4 linked regions of the Homo sapiens genome follow. The protein of the gene in region 4 interacts with the protein of the main gene of each other region in a pairwise test. Each region holds a gene or a part of one and is shown on either strand. Other genes may lie near its edges.

Region 1 (4,528 bases), on a different chromosome or scaffold from region 4:
AGTGCTGCCTACTACAGGGCTCCAAGGTTCTGACATGTCCCTTGGGTCTGAAGAGGATTTAGGTTCAGAGCCCCCAGGAGCCCAAAGCCCTGGACACTCCTTTCCCAAGTCTCTTCAGGGTACCCCTAAAGCCTTTAATCACCAAGTCAGAAACACGGCAGGGCTCTCCTTGCCAGAATTCCCCTGGCCTGGACCTCTGGGCAGCAGCCTCTTGGCCTATAATCCCTGGTCCTTAAAAAGTCACCAGTCACTCTTGAGGAACAGGAGATAACCGTGGACAGTCCCCCCGGCCGGTCCTGAGGCCCAGCTCTCTAGCTGAACCCGCAAAACAGAAATCATCATACTCAGGCCCCTCCAATTCCTCACCCTGCACAGTAGCAAGGAAAGGATGCAAGATGGTGAGGAAATCCTGAACAAACTCCCAAAGGACAGCAATGGGTCCATCTACAGTCTTGCCTTAGTACCTACCTGGCTTTCCCCGGAGAGCAGAAGGTCTCCAGACCCCATGGTGGCAGGAGGCAGGCCACTGAGTGCAGGCTCAGACCTCTCAGCTACGGGCTCTCTGTTGGCATCACTGGCCTGTGGCTGGTGGGCTCTAGAGGGGCCGCCAGGGTCAGTCCCAATCCAGCAAGTAGGGGCAGGTATCCCTTCTGCCCCCCATACAGGGGAGATGAGCCCTCCCTCAGCTTCCAGGCGTGGGGGCTGCTCCCCACTCATGGGCCCTGGGATGTCCAGCTCCCGCTCCCTGCAGCTCCCTCTCCCATAGGACTGGGCCTTTGTGTCTTCAGATGCTTCCGCTTCTGCCTTTTCTTCACCCAGGGCCATTGAGACTCCCTACCTAGGTCAGGGTTCTGCTGAAGACTTCAGCTTCCTACAAAACAGGGGAAGGGAGAGAAAAATATAAATCTTCTACATCTGTGTTCAGGAAGTCTTGCTCTTTAACAATTAAGGCAAACATATTTTTGGTCAAAGAAAAAAGGAAACAAATGGTGACTACTTCCTCAGAGGAGCACCGAGTTCCGGCTTTTCCCTGGCCCCAGACCTTTCCAAAGGGGACACAGAAGCACACCATTTCCCCTCTGCTTTCATGGTGGATGGTGCCATCCCCACCAGCAGAAACCCAAGAGGGTCAACACAGGTCCAAAGTCCAATCAAGGCTGGGGTCCTGCCTAAGTCACCTTTTTGCCCTTTTAGCCCAACCCCACTGGGTAAGAGGCCTGGTGGGACCCTTCCTGTGCACAGGCCCATAGTGGTTCTGTTGTCGTAACGGTCCCCTCAGCAAGCAACTCAGGCCTGGCTCTGACTGTTCTATCCTAGAGAACAGCAAGTCAGGGCATGCCCAGGCCTCAGCTGGGCACTGGAAGAATGCCCTCCAAGATGCTTGGCTCTGCCTGGCAGAGGAGGCAGGACCCTCTCTTTTCTTTTCTTTTTTTCTTTTTTCTGAGACAGGGTCTTACTCTGTCACCCAGGCTGGAGTGCAGTGGCATGATCTCAGCTCACTGCAGCCTCGACCTCCCTGGGCTCAGGTGATCCTCCCACCTCAGCCTCCTGAGTAGCTGGGACTACAGGCACATGCCACCACGCCTGGCTAATTTTTCTATTTTTAGTAGAGACAGGGTTTCACCATGTTGCCCAGGCTGGGACCCTCTCAAAGCACAGAAACCACATCCAGCCTGTGGAACAGGTGAGAGCTACTTGTTCCAAGGATGGCCAGTGACCAAAGAGAAAGAGATCAGCAACTCTCCTCAGGCTGGCCTGGGTTATGCTGCACGTGGTGATGGAGGGAAGCTGTGGAAAGCTGGTGGGTAACAGTGGTAGGGTAAGTGTAACACAGCATGTGTGCACATGAGAGCAAGAGCCAATCAGCAGGCAGGCAGGCGAGGGAGCACAGGCCGAGCACTCAGGGAAGGATGATGATTTGGGAGCTGAATCTGCAAACAGGACCATTCCAACACAAAGAGGTTCAGGAACAACAGAGGGACATCACCCTCAGCCTAAGCATGCCAGCAAAAGTTGATGCTGAGAGCCCTGGTGGGATGGGGTAGGGGGCCAAAAAGCCAACAGGAGGAAGACCAATGCTGGGAGGATGTGGAAGGGGAGGTAACGGAACCGTGAATGCCCAGGATGTCGGCAGCCACCCGGAGTGCACTGGGCCAACCTCAAAGCTTAAATGTGGGCAGAAATGGCCTTGTTTCCTTAGTCAGGAGGCAAACAGATGGTAAGAGGAGATGCTGGTGGAGAGCCTGCAAAGGGGGAATGGCTGCGGGCTCATCTTACTCAGCTCACACGCTGGGAAATACCACCTAGATGGGCACTGCACACACTGAGGACGCCTTGCACTGGAATCCAAGAGGGCCCTTCCCTACTCTGCCTGATGGGGCATGCCAGGCTCCAGCCTGATTCAGAAGTGACCCTGGAGAAGAGCATGCCCTTCGCACGGACGCTCGTCTAGTTCCCACAACCACCAGGTGGGGCAGGAACTAATCAGAAAATTATTTTTGAAAGGTAATATACAGCTCAAATGTAAAATGCACAGCAGATGTAAGTCTCTCTCCGCCCTTGTCCCCCATTCCTTTGCCAAAATGAGCCAGGGCAGGCAGAACATCTATGACAGTGCCTGGCATGGTATGGACACTAAGTGTTGGCTGTTGTCATTAGTGTCATGGGGAGGCATGGACAGAATCAGTGTAACAGGTCACCTTACAAGGAAGGACAAAGGAGCCAAATGGGAGAAAAAGCAGCCCATTTTTAAATACAAATCAAACAAAATATTTACTACTAGATACTCCCACAAAATCAGGGAACCAGCCTTACTAGTTTTGTGTATGACCCTTGTTTCCTGATGCAAATATCTATGTTCATCCTTCCCCCACTTTTGTTCCCCCAGAAACTGAGTCTTGCTCCATCACCCAGGCTAGATAGAGTTCAGCGGTGTGATCTCAGCTCACTGCAACCTCCACCTCCCGGGTTCAAGCGATTCTCCTACCTCAGCCTCCCGGCTAGCTGGGACTACAGGCGTGCGCCACCATGCCTGGCTAATTTTTTTATATTTTTAGTAGAGATGGGGTTTCACCATGTTAGCCAGGCTGGTCTTGAACTCCTGACCTCAGGCAATCCACCCACCTCCCAAAGTGCTGGGATTATAGGCATAAGCCACTGTACCAGGCTTATCCTTCCCTCCCTTTTTTTTTTTACATAAAAGTAGCAAACTGTATAGGTCATACTATTCAGAACCTTGGTTTTCTTTTCTCTACAAAAAATATCTAGGGGCTCATTCCTAAGCAATACAGCAGGTCCTTCAGTAACATCACTTGGTACGATATCTTTTTTTTTTTTGAGACAGAGTCTCACTCTGTTGCCCAGGCTGGAGTGCACTGGTGCGATCTCAGTTCACTGCAACCTCCGCCTCCCTGGTTCAAGCAATTCTCCTGCCTCAGCCTCCCAAGCAGCTGGGATTACAGGCATGTGCCACCATGCCCAGCTAATTTTTTTTTGTGTGTGTATATATATATATATATATATATTTTTTTTTTTTTTTTTTTTGAGACAGAGTCTCACTCTGTCTTCCAGGCTGGTGTGCAGTGGTGTGATCTCGGCTCACTGCAACCTCTGCCTCCTGGGTTCAAGCAATTCTCTGCCTCAGCCTCCCGAGTAGCTGGGATTACAGGCACCCACCACCACACCTGGCTAATTTTTATATTTTTAGTAGAGATGGGGTTTCACCATCCTGGCCAGGCTGGTCTTGAAATTCTGACCTTATGATCCACCCGCCTCAGCCTCCCAAAGTGCTGGGATTACAGGCGTGAGCCACCGTGCCTGGCCAATTTTTGTATTTTTAATAGAGACGGGGTTTCGCCATCTTGGCCAGGCTGGTCTTGAACTTCTGACCTCGTGATCCACCCGCCTCAGCCTCCCAAAGTGCTAGGATTACAGGTGTAAGCCACACCGCCCAGCCGGTCCAATGTCTTTTCATTATATCATTGATAAGAAACCCTGATTCCTGACTGAGGTCACTGTCTGTATGGAGTGTGCACATTCTCCCCATGTCTGCCTGGATGATATCCAGTTCATCTGGATACTCGGGTTTCCTCCCACATCCTGAAAACATATACTTAGGTGAATGGGGCTGACTACATGGTCCTGGTCTGAGTGTGGGTAGATGAGTGAGCGTGCCCTGCCATGGGATGAAGTCCTGCCCATGATTGGTTCCCTCCTTACACCCTCAGCTGCTGGGACAGGCTCCAGCTACCTGCGAACTTGAACCCATTTGAGTAAGCAGGTAAATCATAATCTTGTGTTTTTTTTTTTTTTTTTAAGATGAAGTCTCGGTTTGTCACCTAGGCTGGAGTGCAGTGGCGTGATCTTGGCTCACTGCAACCTCCGGCCCCTGGCTTCAAGCAATTCTCCTGCTTCAGCCTTCTGAGTAGCTGGGACTACAGACACTCACCACCATGCCTGACTAATTTTTGTATGGGGTTTCACCATGTTGGCCAGGCTGATCTGGAACTCCTGACCTCAAATGATCCGC
Region 2 (4,528 bases), about 14 Mb from region 4:
ATTTCACAATTCATGCCTTTGCACAAGCTGCTCCCTCTCTACCTATGAATGCCATTTCCCTCTCTTCTCTTGACTTCCTCAATTCCTGAACAAGTCTTACTACTTGCTTTAAAGCACAGTTCCCTTAGCAAGTCTTCCCTCACTAATACTTTCCACTCAGCACATTTCATTTTCATCATTTGCTTGCCTGGCTATCCCAGACTATGCAGCTGTTGAGAACAGAGTCTCCATTATTAGTCCAGGTGCCACCAGTGAAGAGTAAATTGTAGTTAATCATCAATGTTTGTTAAATCTGACACACACACACAGCCCCCCACACTGAAGTTTCTCTTATTTATAAATCAACCCCAAGGAAATATAAAGCTTTTTGTAGTAGGAAAGCTTTGGAAGTAGTCTTGAAAACGCTTATACTTGTTACCAAAATACCTTAAATATTTAGCAATCTTTGCACAGAAGGAATTTGCACCTAACTTTTAAGTGACAACAGAAAATAGTTTATAAATAAGTTTCAAATCAGAGAAAATATATTTTTTAACATTTATTCAAGAGTAAAAACATACTCTGAAAACGTGTACCTGGGCTGTTTGTGGACTGCTAGGTAGCCTGTTCATGCCTAGTAGATACTCAAATACTTTTTACAATGAAAAGAAATGAAAAATGAGAGTTTGATCTCATATCCATTACCAGTTACATGTCCTATAAAAAAGCAGATCAATAAAAGGAGAACTAAAAAAAAGGGGGGGAGCTTGCACAATGAATCCAAAAAGCAGGTAATCTAATTGTAAATAATCCAGAATTGAGTATGTTATATCAGCTGCCACATACTCTCCCTCCCGGTAATTGAGTCAGACAATTACTTTCAAGTAAGGTTGAATGGTCTTAAGTCACAATGGCCTAATACAAATAATACTTATTTCCATATAAGAATGACAATTTTCTTGCAAGAAAAACAGATACCATAAACTTTTCAAAGCCCTCTGGAAACTTTTTTTTTTTTTTTTTTTTGAGATAGAGTCTTGCTCTGTCGCAGTGGCACGATCTTGGATGTCTGTAATCTCCGCCTCCCAGGTTCAAGCAATTCTCCTGCCTCAGCCTCCTGAGTAGCTGGGACTCGGCGCACATCACCACACTCGGCTAATTTTTCTATTTTTGCTAGAGACGGGGTTTCACCATACTGGTCTGGCTGGTCTCAAACTCCTGACCTCAGGTGATCCACCAGCCTCAGCCTACCAAAGTGCTGGGAGTAAAGGCATGAGCCGCCATGCTCAGCCACAATTTTTTAATGTAAGTAATTTTTACTTCTTTAGAAAAATTATATGACTAGCACACCATGTCTAATAAAAGGATAATTCCATAAACTTTTACCAGGTCCCACTCATTTACAAGCAAAAAAACCCCAAAAAAACAAAATAAAAAATAAAAACCAAATAAAAGATTGATAGCTCACCACAATTCACATGATTAAAATGATCCCAGCCCTTGGGAGGCCAAGGTGGGTGGATCACTTGAGGTCAGGGGTTGAAGACCAGCCTGGCCAACATGGTGAAACCCCGTCTCTACTAAAAATACAAAAAAAATTCGCCAGGCATGGTGGTGCACACAGGTAATCCCAGCTACTCCGGAGGCTGAGGCAGGAGAATCACCTGAACCCAGGAAGTGGAGGTTGCAATGAGCTGAGATCACACCCTTGCACTCCAGCCTGGGAAACAGAGTGAGTCTCTATCTCGAAAAAAAAAAAAAGATAGCAGCCCTATAAATTAAAAATCAATTACTCTTTCTCAGGCCATATTTACAGACTGTTTTTTTCTGGCTCATAGTTCAGCATTCGGTTTTGCGGACCCATGCCTAAAAGGAAAAAGTGTTAATACATTCTCATTTCTTGCAAGTAGCATCACTTCATCATTTCAGTATAAAAGAAAAATGATCACTTACCTTTTGATGCTGTCAAAATAGTACTTAACAATTATTGACAGATTAGATTTACTACCACAGGACCATTGTTTTTCCTATTTTTCTAATGACAAAACCAGGTGTTTCTAGACTATAAATTGGGTTTTAAAATTCATAAGTGATCAGAATTCCTAGAAAGCTCCAGATTTTTTATGTCAAGCCACAGACATGTCGAAGTGGTATAAACTTTTGATGTTCAAGAATCAGGATAGATTAATGAATTGTGACACTCTATAAAGTACCAAAAGCTAAAGGTCTATAATTAAACATATAATTATATATCCAATTCTGAGTTACAAACGTGCTGTTATTCAAAAGCACATTCTTTTCCACTGAAAATCCATTTCCTTTCCTCCTTGTAGCTGAAAATTGAGTCATTATAATACAATCAAAAGACTTTGTGTAAATCAAACAAGCAATTTTGCTTTGTGCTAAACATCATAAAGTATAAGGAAATATAACCATAGCTAAACAGTAATATCACTATCATTATTACAATTTATAATTATTTTAAAATAGAATTAATTAAAATATAAAACATTCAACCACAAACACTGGAGATAAATATTTTTATATTTAGAGAATATAAAAGTCACCTTTCACTCATGAGCTCATCTGAGACTTTTTGCTCTTCACATTCCATTTTGTCCTTATTGGTCTGGTTCGTTTCCTCACTTTCTAAAACTACTCCTTCATCTTGGATTTTTGGTCCTTGTCTGATTATTTTCAACTTTCTTTTTTTGACTTTGTTCTTGGTAAATTCTTGATACTGGTAGGCTCTATCACTGTCCATGTCCTGATCTCTACAACCCTCAGGTGGCTGGGTCATTGTCCGTTTGTTAGAGATGTCCTGTGGGAGATCTACTGCCATGCGTTTTACCTTTCTCCTCCTGCGCAGAGTTCTATTCCCAACATTGTCCACAGCAAAATCAGACTCATGCCATAGAGGTCTTTTCCCTCGAACATTATTATTTAAGTTTGATGACGGCCTGCGCTTTGCTACTAACATTTGGTCATCAGAGTCACTGTGATCTTTTTTATTATTATTGTGATTCTCTCTATAGTCCTTGCTTGGTTCTTCTAAACTAGAATCAGAGCCTTCACTTAAGCAGTGACCAGTCTCCCACGGGTGATGCACATTATACGACCTCCGTTTTCTCCCTCTCCTTTTCCTTGCCTGGCGTTTCAGAGGGCAAGATATACTTCGAGAATGGTCTCCTGTTTCAGCAAATCCACCTCGAGCTTGCTCTGAGCTCTCTTCCAATGCTGAGACAAGGTCATGAACCAGCTCCTCCATGGTTCTACTGAAATGCCTTCATTTTTTAGAGAAAGAAAAAAGAAAATAGTCAGTCTTAACCACAGTAACCTCATTTTCTATAACAGACAATTCATTCTAAATTCGACAAAAATTAATGATTACAAAATGTTTCAAAGCTAATTTTCCTATCCAAGATATTACAGTTTTAAATATTGATTCATTTTAGGCCTCTTCTTATATAAGTTCTTTTATTAAACATAGGAATTACTTCCAAGATAGAATAAGCTTATGAGCAATGAAAGATCCCAGTATTTTTATATTTTTCTGTATAATTATGGAAAAGTTCTGTTTAAATCCCTATCCGCTGGCCCACTCCTACCCCTTTTCTAGAGCCAGTTTTCCTACAGCAGATACAGAAAGAACTTTCTCAGTCCCCTCTTCGCCCACTAATCTCTAAGTAAAAAAAGAAACATGAAATCTTCTATTCACCACGTGCCCTAACCAGTCACTGTCATATAAGAGGCAGTTAGAAAGACAGACAGGTAGTTTCAGGATTAGTAATATACGTGAAAGTTTAACCAACACCATGCATTTATTTAGGCCACACTAATCTCTTAACCCAGTGAAGCACAAACTACATTCGCATTCAAATTGGAGCCTCACTGGTTTCAAAGGGCCCATCATTACTTCATTCTGAAGCAATCTCTTAGGCTTTCCTTTTTTAAGAGCATTAAACTATATTACCAGTATGAAAATTATCCAGTAGTCAGCAAGAATAAGCATAAGCATTCTTTGGGAATTTTTATAAATTATACCTGTCCTTTTAAAACCCAATTCCCAAAGATTTTAAATTAGTTGGGGTGACATACAGCCAAGGTATCTGGTTTTATTTTTTAAACATCACAGGCAATTCAGATTTGCACCCGTCTTATGAAGACCACAGGCAATCATTTCTAAAATCGAGATCTAGAGGCACCTAGGGATTGAAATATTCTCAACAGTCATACAGAGCTTCTAGAGCCTACAGCAGGAGTAGGCTTTTATGTAACTGGCCTGCTAGTAAATATTCTAGGCTTTGCAGGCCATTGGGTCTCCCAAAACTACTCAACTTGCCACTATAATGCAAAAATAGCCACAAGCAATACATAAATAAATGGGTATGGCTGTGTTCTAATAAAGTTTTATTTATAGAATCAGGTTATAGCTGGTTATAGTTTGCTGACCCATAGTCTATATAGTCTCTACAATCATGTATAGTCTCCAACAGTCAATAATTTCAGGCTTTTGCAAGTTCCTTATAACAGCTTTCAACTTTTGTCG
Region 3 (4,528 bases), on a different chromosome or scaffold from region 4:
CAGAGGTGGGCGGATCACAAAGTCAGGAGTTCGAGACCATCCTGACCAACATGGTGAAACCCCGTCCCTACTAAAAACACAAAAATTAGCCAGGCGTGGTGGCACGCACCTATAATCCCAGCTACTGAGGAGGCAGGCTAAGGCAGGAGAATCCCTTGAACCCAGGAGGCGGAGGCTGTAGTGAGCTGAGATCGCGCCACTGCACTCCAGCCTGGGCGACAGAGCAAGACTCCATCTCAAAAAAAAGGCCAGGCACCTTTTTCCCCAGCACTTTGGGAGGCTGTGGTGGGCGGATTACAAGGTCAGGAGTTTGAGACTATCCTGACCAACATGGTGAAACCCTGTCTCTACTAAACATACACAAGACATACCCTGTCTCTACTAAACCCTGTCTCTACTAAACATACACAAGACATACTCTGTCTCTACCAAACATACACAAGTTAGCCGGGCATGGTGGCACGTGCCTAGGCATGGTGGCGGGCGCCTGTAGTCCCAGCTACTCGGGAGGCTGAGGCGGGAGAATGGCGTGAACCTGGGAGGTGGAGCTTGCAGTGCGCAGAGATCGTACGACTGCACTCTAGCCTGGGATACAGAGACTCCGTCTCAAAAAAAAAAAAAAAAAAAGTCTGCTATCCTCCTACACCCAGTATGGACTTGAGGAATGAAAAATATGACCTGAAGGCCAGAGTTCATCTTTGAACTTTTCTAAGTTTTTTTTTTTTTTTTTTTTTGAAACAAGATCTCACTCTGTTTCCCAGGCTGGAGTATAGTGGCGTGATCACGGATCATTACAGCCTGGACCTTCCAGCTTCAATTGATCCTCCTGCCTCAGTCTCACAAGTAGCTGGGACCACTGGCGCACGCCACCACACCTGGCTAATTTTTGTATTTTTTTGTAGAGACAGGGTTTTGTCATGTTGCCCAGGCTGGTCCCAAACTCCTAGTCTCAGGCAAGCCTCCTACCTCAGGCTCCCAAAGTGCTACAATTACAGGCATGAGCCACTATGCCTGGCCTATTTTTTTTCTTTTTCTTTTTCTTTTTTTTTTTTTTTGAGATGGAGTCTCACTCTGTTGCCCAGGCTGGAGTGCAGTAGCGCAATCTCGGCTCACTGCAAGCTCTGCCTCCCGGGTTCATGCCATTCTCCTGCCTCAGCCTCCCAAGTAGCTGGGACTACAGGAACCCTCCACCACGCCAGGATAATTTTTTTTGTATTTTTAGTAGAGATGGTGTTTCACCATGTTAGCCAGGATGGTCTTGATCTCTTGACCTCGTGATCCACCCGCCTTGGCCTTCCAAAGTGCTGGGATTACAGGCGTGAGCCACCGCACCCCGCCTTTTTTCTTTTCTTTTTTTTTTTTTTGAGACAGGGTCTTACTCTATCACCCGTGCTGGCATACAGTCGTGCTATCTAGGCTCACTGCAGCCATGACCTTCCAGGATCAAGGATCCTCCTACCTCAGCCTTCTGAGTAGCTGGGACCGTAGGCATGAGCCATCATGTTCAGGTAATTTTTTTGTAAATATGGAGTTTCCCCATGTTGCGCAGGCTAGTCTCGAATGCCTGAGCTCAAATGTTCCACCTGCCTTGGCCTCCCAAAGTCCTGGGATTCCACACCCAGCTTTTTTATTTTCATTAACACACCTGACATGGATATCTTTGAACTTTTCTGATGAAGCTATCTGGGAATGCTAACCTAAGAAGATGCTGAGTCCAGGGCTACCAGTAGCCATCTTGCCACCTAATCTATCTCAACAATGAAACCAATAACTGAGAAATGGAGAGGCAAAGCCCCATGTTTGGGACACTAGATTGAGTCAAAAATAATCAATCCTATGTGGGGGAGATGTTTGAAAAATAATAATAAATAATGTCAAGCAGAAAGATGCAGAATGTAGATGTTCCTAGATCTAGGTGATTCCAAATGCACTCCTAGACTTCCTAGTTACATGAACTAATTAATACTTCCCTCAGTCCCTTAAGCCAAACTGGGTTTTTCTTACGTAAATACCAAAAATTCCTAAATAATGTGACAATCCATTACATAAAACCATTTAATAATTTATTAGGCCAGGCGCAGTGGCTCCAAAAATTACGGAATTTTATACGTGAAAATAACCTCGGGCTGGGCACGGTGGCTCATGCCTGTAATCCCAGCATGTTGGGAGGCCAAGGCGGGTGGATCACCTGAGGTCACCTAGCCTGACCAACATGGTGAAACCCCGTCTCTACGAAAAATACAAAATTAGCCAGGCATGGTGGCGCGTGCCTGTAATCCCAGCTACTCAAGAGGCTGAGGCAGGAGAATCACTTGAACCTGGGGTTGCAGTGAGTCGAGATCACGCCATTGCACTCCAGCCTGGGCGACAAAAGCGAAACTCCATATTAAAAAAAAAAAAGACCTCAGCAATTTGGTCCAGAATGAGATTTACAGATAAAGACACTGAAGTCCACTGAGGAAAAGAGGCCCACCTGAGGGCACGCCACAATATTGGCAGGATCAGATCAGAATCTGTTGCCAAGAAGCTGCTCATAAAAATACTTTTTAAAAATTTTAATTTTTAAATAATTAATGTTCACAGAAGGTTGCAAAAATACATACAGGAAGGTCGCATGTACTTTTCACCCAGTCTCCCCCAATAGTAATGTCTTTCATAAATACAATAAAATAACAAAACCAGTAAATTGATATTGGTACAATCCACAGAGCTTATTCAGATTTCACCAGTTTTAAAGGCATTCATTTGTGCTTATGTATAGTTCTATGTAATTTTATCACATGTAGATTCATGTAAACACCACCACACTCAAGATACAAAGCTGTTCTATCACCACCAACCACCCCATGTCACACCTATATTTATAGCCTCACCACTTCCTCCCCCATCCCTCATCTCTAAGCTATTCTCCTTCTCTACAGTTCTGCTAATTCAGGAATGTTAAATAAATAAATCTTCACCCAGGCCGGGCCTGGTGGCTCACGCCTGTAATCCCAGAACTTTGGGAGGCCAAGTTGGGCAGATCACCTGAGAACAGGAGTTCGAGACCAGCCTGGCCAACATGGTGAAACCCCGTCTACTAAAAGTACAAAAATTAGCCAGGCATGGTGGCAGGCGCCTATAATCCCAGCTACTCGGGAGGCTGAGGCAGGAGAATCACTTGAACCTGGGAGGCGGAGGTTGCATTAAGCCGAGATTGCACCATTGCACTCCAGCCTGGGGGACAAGAATGAGACTTCGTCTCAAAAATAAATAAAGAAATAAATCTTCACCCAGCCCTAGATTCTGGTTATGTTTTAGTTCTAAAAGGCTTACAGTTTTTTTTTTATGTTTAAGTCCATGATCACGTTAATTTTTTTTTTTTTTTGAGATGGAGTCTTGCTCTGTCGCCCAGGCTGGTGTGCAGTGGCGCAATCTCAGCTCACTGCAAGCTCTGCCTCCCGCGTTCACATCATTCTCCTGCCTCAGCCTCCTGAGTAGCTGGGACTACAGGTGCCCGCCAACTCGCCTAATTTTTTTTTTTATTTTTAGTAGAGAAGGGGTTTGACCGTGTTAGCCAGAATGGTCTTGATCTCCTGACCTAGTGATCCACCCGCCTTGGCCTCCCAAAGTGCTGGGATTACAGGCGTGAGCCACTGCACCCGGCCAAGTTAATTTTTATATAAGGTATGACATTTAGGTGGAGGTTCCTTTTTTTCCTTAAGACGTTCAGTTGCTAAAAATATATATTTTAAAGTACCTAGACCTTTTCTGGCAACAACAACAACAACAAAATCAACATAAATATATATATTTATGTATATTTATAATATATATATTATTTATTTTGTTGTTATTATTTACTCAGTCTCTATATATACATATATTTTGAGACTGAGTCTTGCTCCGTTACCCAGGCTAGAGTACAATGGCATGATCTCAGCTCACTGCAACCTCCGTCTCCCGGGTTCAAGCAATTCTAGTGCCTCAGCCTCCCAAGTAGATGGGATTACAGGCGTGCGCCACGACGCCCAGCTAATTTTGTATTTTTAGTAGAGACAGGGTTTCACTGTGGTCAAGCTGCTCTCGAACTACTGATCTCAAGTGATCCACCTGCCTCAGCCTCCCAAAGTGCTGGGATTACACGTGTGAGCCACCACACGTGGCCACAAAGAATATTTTTTAAAGACTAATATTTTAAAAGATGAACTACTAGATAGAAAAAAAATACTTTCTATGTAAAAAAGAAAAAAAAAAAAAAAACTGGCCAGGCACAGTGGCTCACGACTATAATCCCAGCACTTTGGGAGGCCGAGGTGGGTAGATCATCTGAGGTCAGTAGTTTGAGACCAGACTGGACAACATGGCAAAATCCTGTCTCTACTAAGAATACAAAAATTAGCCAGGCATGGTGGCGCACACCTGTAATCTCAGCTACTTGGGAGGCTGAGGCAGAAGAACCGCGTGAACCCAGGAGGCAAAGGTTGCAGTAAGCCGAGACCATGCCACTGTACTCCAGCCTGGGTGACAGAGCTAGACTCCATCTTAA
Region 4 (5,190 bases):
AATTTTGCCAATATGCTGAACCTACATCGAATTTCTCTGTACTGCTATAGTAGCTTTGGAACTTCCCTAAACATTAATATTGATCCTATTCCTGCTAGTATGTCTAAGAAATAGCTCCTGGAAACTTGCTTTCTTTCGGAAGAAACAAAAAACAGTAAAATATAAACTTGTGAAAGCAAATCATCAGATAAAGCATATGGCTGAACAACAACAAAAAGCCTTTTAAAATTAGTTTTGTTCTTCATTCTTTTCAACATTTGTATTTCGGGAGACTTATTAGGTGTCTGGGATATATAAAGTGAAAAACAGGAATGAAATCTTTGTAGAGATCTATAGAGTCTACATTCTAGTAAGGGAAAGAGAGATAATGAAGAAATATAATATATAAAGAGATTACACATTAGAAGTTGAGAAGTGCTATGAAAAAAGGGCCACAGTGTGTGCTGGGTTTATGAGGAAAACCTCAGTATTTGGGGTAAGCAAAATAAAGCCTTTGCTAGGAGTTAGGTTGTAAAGTTAAGAGGTAAATGAAATCCATGTGGGAAGAAACCAATGGTACCACGTGCTAGCTTATGACCCTGAGCATAACTTGTGAGCCTCAATCTCCCCGCCTGTGAAGTGGTAAAAATATCTATGATTTAGAGGTATTGCAAAAACCTATGAGATTGTGAATATAAAGAATAGTGGCTAAAAACATATCTTAACTGGCCCAAAACATCCACTTTACCCATCATTCACATTCTTGGATAAAAGAATTAAAACATTAATTAGGATATAAACTTAGTTTTGTGTACCGAAATGTCTCAAAAAATGACAATTCTTATCATTATCAGTGATATAAACTAAACTTAAGAAAAAAACATGTATTTCTTCTTTGAAATGGAGGACATTTCCCCCAAACTGTTAATTTTTCAACAAGAGGGAAAAAAAAAATGACAGGACACAAATTTTTTTTTAAAGACTTATTTCAAGCAGCTAATTATTTGTTCATTTGTTTAACCATCCCTTGGGACAATCTGTAATCTACTCTGATAAGAAATGTGTAGAAAACAGACCTGACGTTTTGTTGTTGTTCAATTATTAGGATACTCAATGTTTGAGCTCACACAAGTATCCCTTAGGGAAATGCTCTGCGTGCCATTAGCACTATTCTTAATGAGGAAAAGCACAGAACTCCTTTAGTTCATTGCCAGAATTGTTTTATCTTCAAGTCAAAAGAACAACTATTTGGAGTAATACCAAAACAAGCATTTAACAATTACAAGCAGCAAGCTATTCATAAGCATCATATTGTTAATGCTAATCCAATTATAAATAACCTTATTTTATCAAATAAAATATCTGTCAGCAAAATTTTCGGTCCTAGACACCTCTTTACTTGACTGCTTTATTCCTTAACTTTAAGAAAAAACATCTTTATTGCTTCAATTCAAAGAATCTCATTTTAAAGACTTTTTACAGAAAAGATACAGAAAATCCTTCATTATTTTAATCCATGAGTAAGTTATCTTCAAAGGAAACTTACAAATCATAAACGAAGGCCTAAAAGAGACCACTGTGCTTATAATAATCCTCAATGATACAGTGAAGTAGGAAAATCTGAAGATCTATCATTCCCATTTTCTTAATGTCCTATCTTTCCAAGAGTACAGCACTTCCTTCCTGCATTAGGAAATAATCTACTGAATATTTCCCTTTCACCTTTTTCTCTCCATTTCTCTGTTCTGTAAGACAATGTACAGCTTTCTAGGTTGCTTTTGGTATCATTATCTATATGGCCTTGGCCCTTATTTAAACTCTTTATCTTTATACTTCACTGATGCATGAGGACATACAAAATAGAACTACTGGGCCAAATACAGCAAATCTGAAATGTCCCATATGTCCCACAGATATTTGGGGAACTTGATGTTGTCACAATTAGTAGAGCCTAATCATGCACTAATAAGGAATTGAGAAGTCTAAACATGAAAAACTTTTTCACACATGAGGCACCAACATTTTGGGGAAAATATGTGAATTTTTATTAAAATACAAGTTTTAAGCAGACTGAAGTCCAAAGTGAGAACTACTGTGATCAGCTTTTATTACATTTATTAACTGTCATGAATTTTTGCAAGATAGGCATACTACATGATGATGTGATAGAAAAAATGATAAAGATTATGGAAGTTATTCAAACTCTTGCCTTTAGTCATTCAGGTTAATAGGATACTTAGGAAAAGCTGTAGAATTGGATTTCTGTTTAATACAGACATTTAGACTGTACTGCTGCTTCAGTTCAAGCACTTTCCAGAAACTAAGAGACCTAACTTGGTCCCCCACCACCACCAACACTACCACCCAGTAGCCCTCAAGATTACACACGCATACCTAACTTATGTATAGCAGGACTACTCTGTCTGAAATATTTTCCTGCTATGAATCTATCTGTAGTATGGTCACAGCTACTATTATAAAGATATTCTCATGTTTTCTGCCAAGCTTGATTTACCTTTTACTTCACCCTTCTTCCCACCAGTACTTCTGATCCTGTCTCCCACTCCAGCCAAATCTGTCACACTTTACAGGTTGTGCCACTTTACAACAAACTAAATTCATGAAGTCATCTTTATTGTGTGTGCTATTATTAAGAAATCAAATAAACCCCTGATATTAATAAATTATGATGGCAGACTGTATTTCATTTGGTAATATGTTATAATGACTCCTCACAGAACTGTTTTACACTTCAGTTTCCAACAATGCACCCTCAGTTTTAACTAATGTATGCTGGTACTTTCTCTTACCCATATTAGAAGACATATCAACATTTCTGAAAAAACAAGTGCTGAAATTATAAACGTTTAGGCTAAAACTGGGTATTCGTATTAAGCAGATACCAAATAAACTCATTTCCCAGTCTTCCTGCAAATCTTAGGGTACTGATATTGAGCATTCCTAATCCAAAAATCCTAAATCCGAAATGGTCCAAAATCCAAAACGTTTTGAGTGCTGACACGATGCTCAAAGGTCATGCTTAAAAGAAATGCTCATTGGAGCATTTCAGGTTCCTGGATTAGAGATGCTCAAGCAGTAAACTGTGAATATTTCAACACTCAAAATCTGAAACACTTCTGTTCCCAAGCATTTTGGATAAGGGATACTGAACCTGTATCTGAATTATCTAGTATCTGTCCTATCAATGAACCCACATTAGAAAAAGAAGAAAGAGGAAAGAACCAAGCACTTTATACATTTATTCAATTTATTTGAAAATAATGATAACCACCAAGATCCAGTATACCCTCAAAATTTTTTTTTTTTGAGACGGAGTCTTGTGCTGACGCCCAGGCTGGAGTGCAGTGGTGCGATCTCGGCTCACTGCAACCTCCACCTCCCGGGTTCAAGTGATTCTCCTGCCTCAGCCTCCGGAGTAGCTGGGATTACAGGCGCCCGCCAACGCACCTGGCTAAGTTTTGTATTTTTTAGTTGAGTCGGGGTTTCACCATCTTGGCCAGGCTGGTCTCGAACTCCTGACCTGGTGATCCACCCGCCTCGGCCTTCCAAAGTGCTGGGATTACAGGCGTGAGCCACCACTGAGATGTGCCCTGTCTGAACACATCCTACATACTCAAGAATAAAGTTCATCCTATTAAATCTGTGTTCTCAAATACTTTATTAAAATCAATCAATGACCATCACTACACTGTTAAAAAAAACATAAAGCCAACTTGCCTTTGGATTACTTCTATATTACTACAAAGTTGCAGTTCTTTAAAAGCCAGTATTATTATTTCATCAGGTGTCACTTAAAATTCATGCAACTCACATGTTAATCATGTAGCACACCATTTAAAATATATATTACCCTGAAACAAACCTAGACTTACCTGTAGTAATGGCTCGATGGAACTGATGCATATCTTCCCCTGATAGCTCTTGGGCTACCTGGAATATCTTTTGTCTGACACCATCCAATTTAATTTCTGATTCAGTCAATATATCTTCCATATCAGGAGCACTATGATCAAGATATTGGGAACTTTTAGAACATCAGATGCTTTAACAGTGAAAAACTAAAATAACCTAATTATCAACATAGGGCTAAATATTGTATGCATTCATATACTTCTAACTCAAAACTACTCAAAACTATTCATAGTATGGAGAACATGAAAATGTTATTAACACACTGTTAAGTGAAAAAAGTATACAAAAATTGTATGTTTACTATAAGAAAAATTTTGTTCATAAAAATATGATATATGGATAAATGTCTGCTTTCAGTAAGGGCAGAGTAACGTGGACTGGATTTATCCTCCCTCCTTAAACAACTAAAAAGAAAAAATAAATACAGAAAACAATGGTTACAGACACTGGACTACAGGCAGCATGGAGCAGTGATCCCTGGGGAAAGGGAGGAGAACAACATATACCCTCTGACTGCCCCATCTTATTGCCTGGAAAGCTTCCAAGTGACAGTACAGAGACAGGAAACTTAGGTGGAGCCTGGGAGTCAGCCTGAGTAGAAAAGGAGTTGGGAGTTTTGGGGGATCGAGACAGCTAAAATTTGCAGAGCAGAGTAACAATGAGGAGAAAGCTGTATAAACAGAGAGCTTCAGAGATTTATAGAAGCAACCTCCTCAAGTCTTCAGTTGAGTACTGATCAGTGCAGGCATGTGAGGAAACTACCTAAGGCTGGAAAAAGAATTGCCCAAAGTGAGCAGGCAGAACAATCCCCTTAGTTCACAGAGCCGGAAAGAATTGATTTATCATCAGCAGATTGACACTACAAAAAATATTAAAAGAAGTTCTTTAGGCAAAAGGAAAATGATACCAGATAAAAATCTGAATCTATACACAAAGGAATGAACATTTACAAAAATTGGTAAATGTGGATAAATATTTTTCTTATTTTTAAATCATACTGTTTAAAGTAAAAATCATAACATATTGTGGAAACAACAAAAGTAGAAATAACATGAATCACAACAGTAGCACAAAAGGCCAAGCTAGTAGAGGGGAAATGGAAAAGGAAGTATAAGATTTTTATACCATACGCGAAATGATAAGTAGTCCTTACTTTGCATGGTACTGTGTTAACTGAAACTTGGGCACATCAAAACTGTGACCTTCACTGGCAAAGTAACTGTTACCAAAAAATCATGCAAAGTGAAAAGATTCTTGTATGCACAAATTTTAGTAAAC

The links. Proteins that work in one complex are often made in the same cells at the same time.
Region 1: the proteins of TSNAX (region 4) and CEP68 interact in binary tests that used the Homo sapiens proteins (3 or more experiments, as listed by UniProt).
Region 2: the proteins of TSNAX (region 4) and GPATCH2 interact in binary tests that used the Homo sapiens proteins (3 or more experiments, as listed by UniProt).
Region 3: the proteins of TSNAX (region 4) and GLE1 interact in binary tests that used the Homo sapiens proteins (3 or more experiments, as listed by UniProt).

The regions. Positions count from the first base shown.
Region 1 is NC_000002.12:65,065,742-65,070,269, reverse strand, and holds part of CEP68 (centrosomal protein of 68 kDa), read right to left. Parts: intron 872-4,528; 5' UTR 826-871; coding exon 469-825; intron 1-468. UniProt on the Homo sapiens protein: Involved in maintenance of centrosome cohesion, probably as part of a linker structure which prevents centrosome splitting. Required for localization of CDK5RAP2 to the centrosome during interphase. Contributes to CROCC/rootletin filament formation.
Region 2 is NC_000001.11:217,617,237-217,621,764, forward strand, and holds part of GPATCH2 (G patch domain-containing protein 2), read right to left. Parts: intron 3,264-4,528; coding exon 2,547-3,263; intron 1-2,546. UniProt on the Homo sapiens protein: Enhances the ATPase activity of DHX15 in vitro.
Region 3 is NC_000009.12:128,510,545-128,515,072, reverse strand, and holds part of GLE1 (mRNA export factor GLE1), read right to left. Parts: intron 1-4,528. UniProt on the Homo sapiens protein: Required for the export of mRNAs containing poly(A) tails from the nucleus into the cytoplasm. May be involved in the terminal step of the mRNA transport through the nuclear pore complex (NPC).
Region 4 is NC_000001.11:231,541,294-231,546,483, reverse strand, and holds part of TSNAX (translin-associated protein X), read right to left. Parts: intron 4,004-5,190; coding exon 3,873-4,003; intron 1-3,872.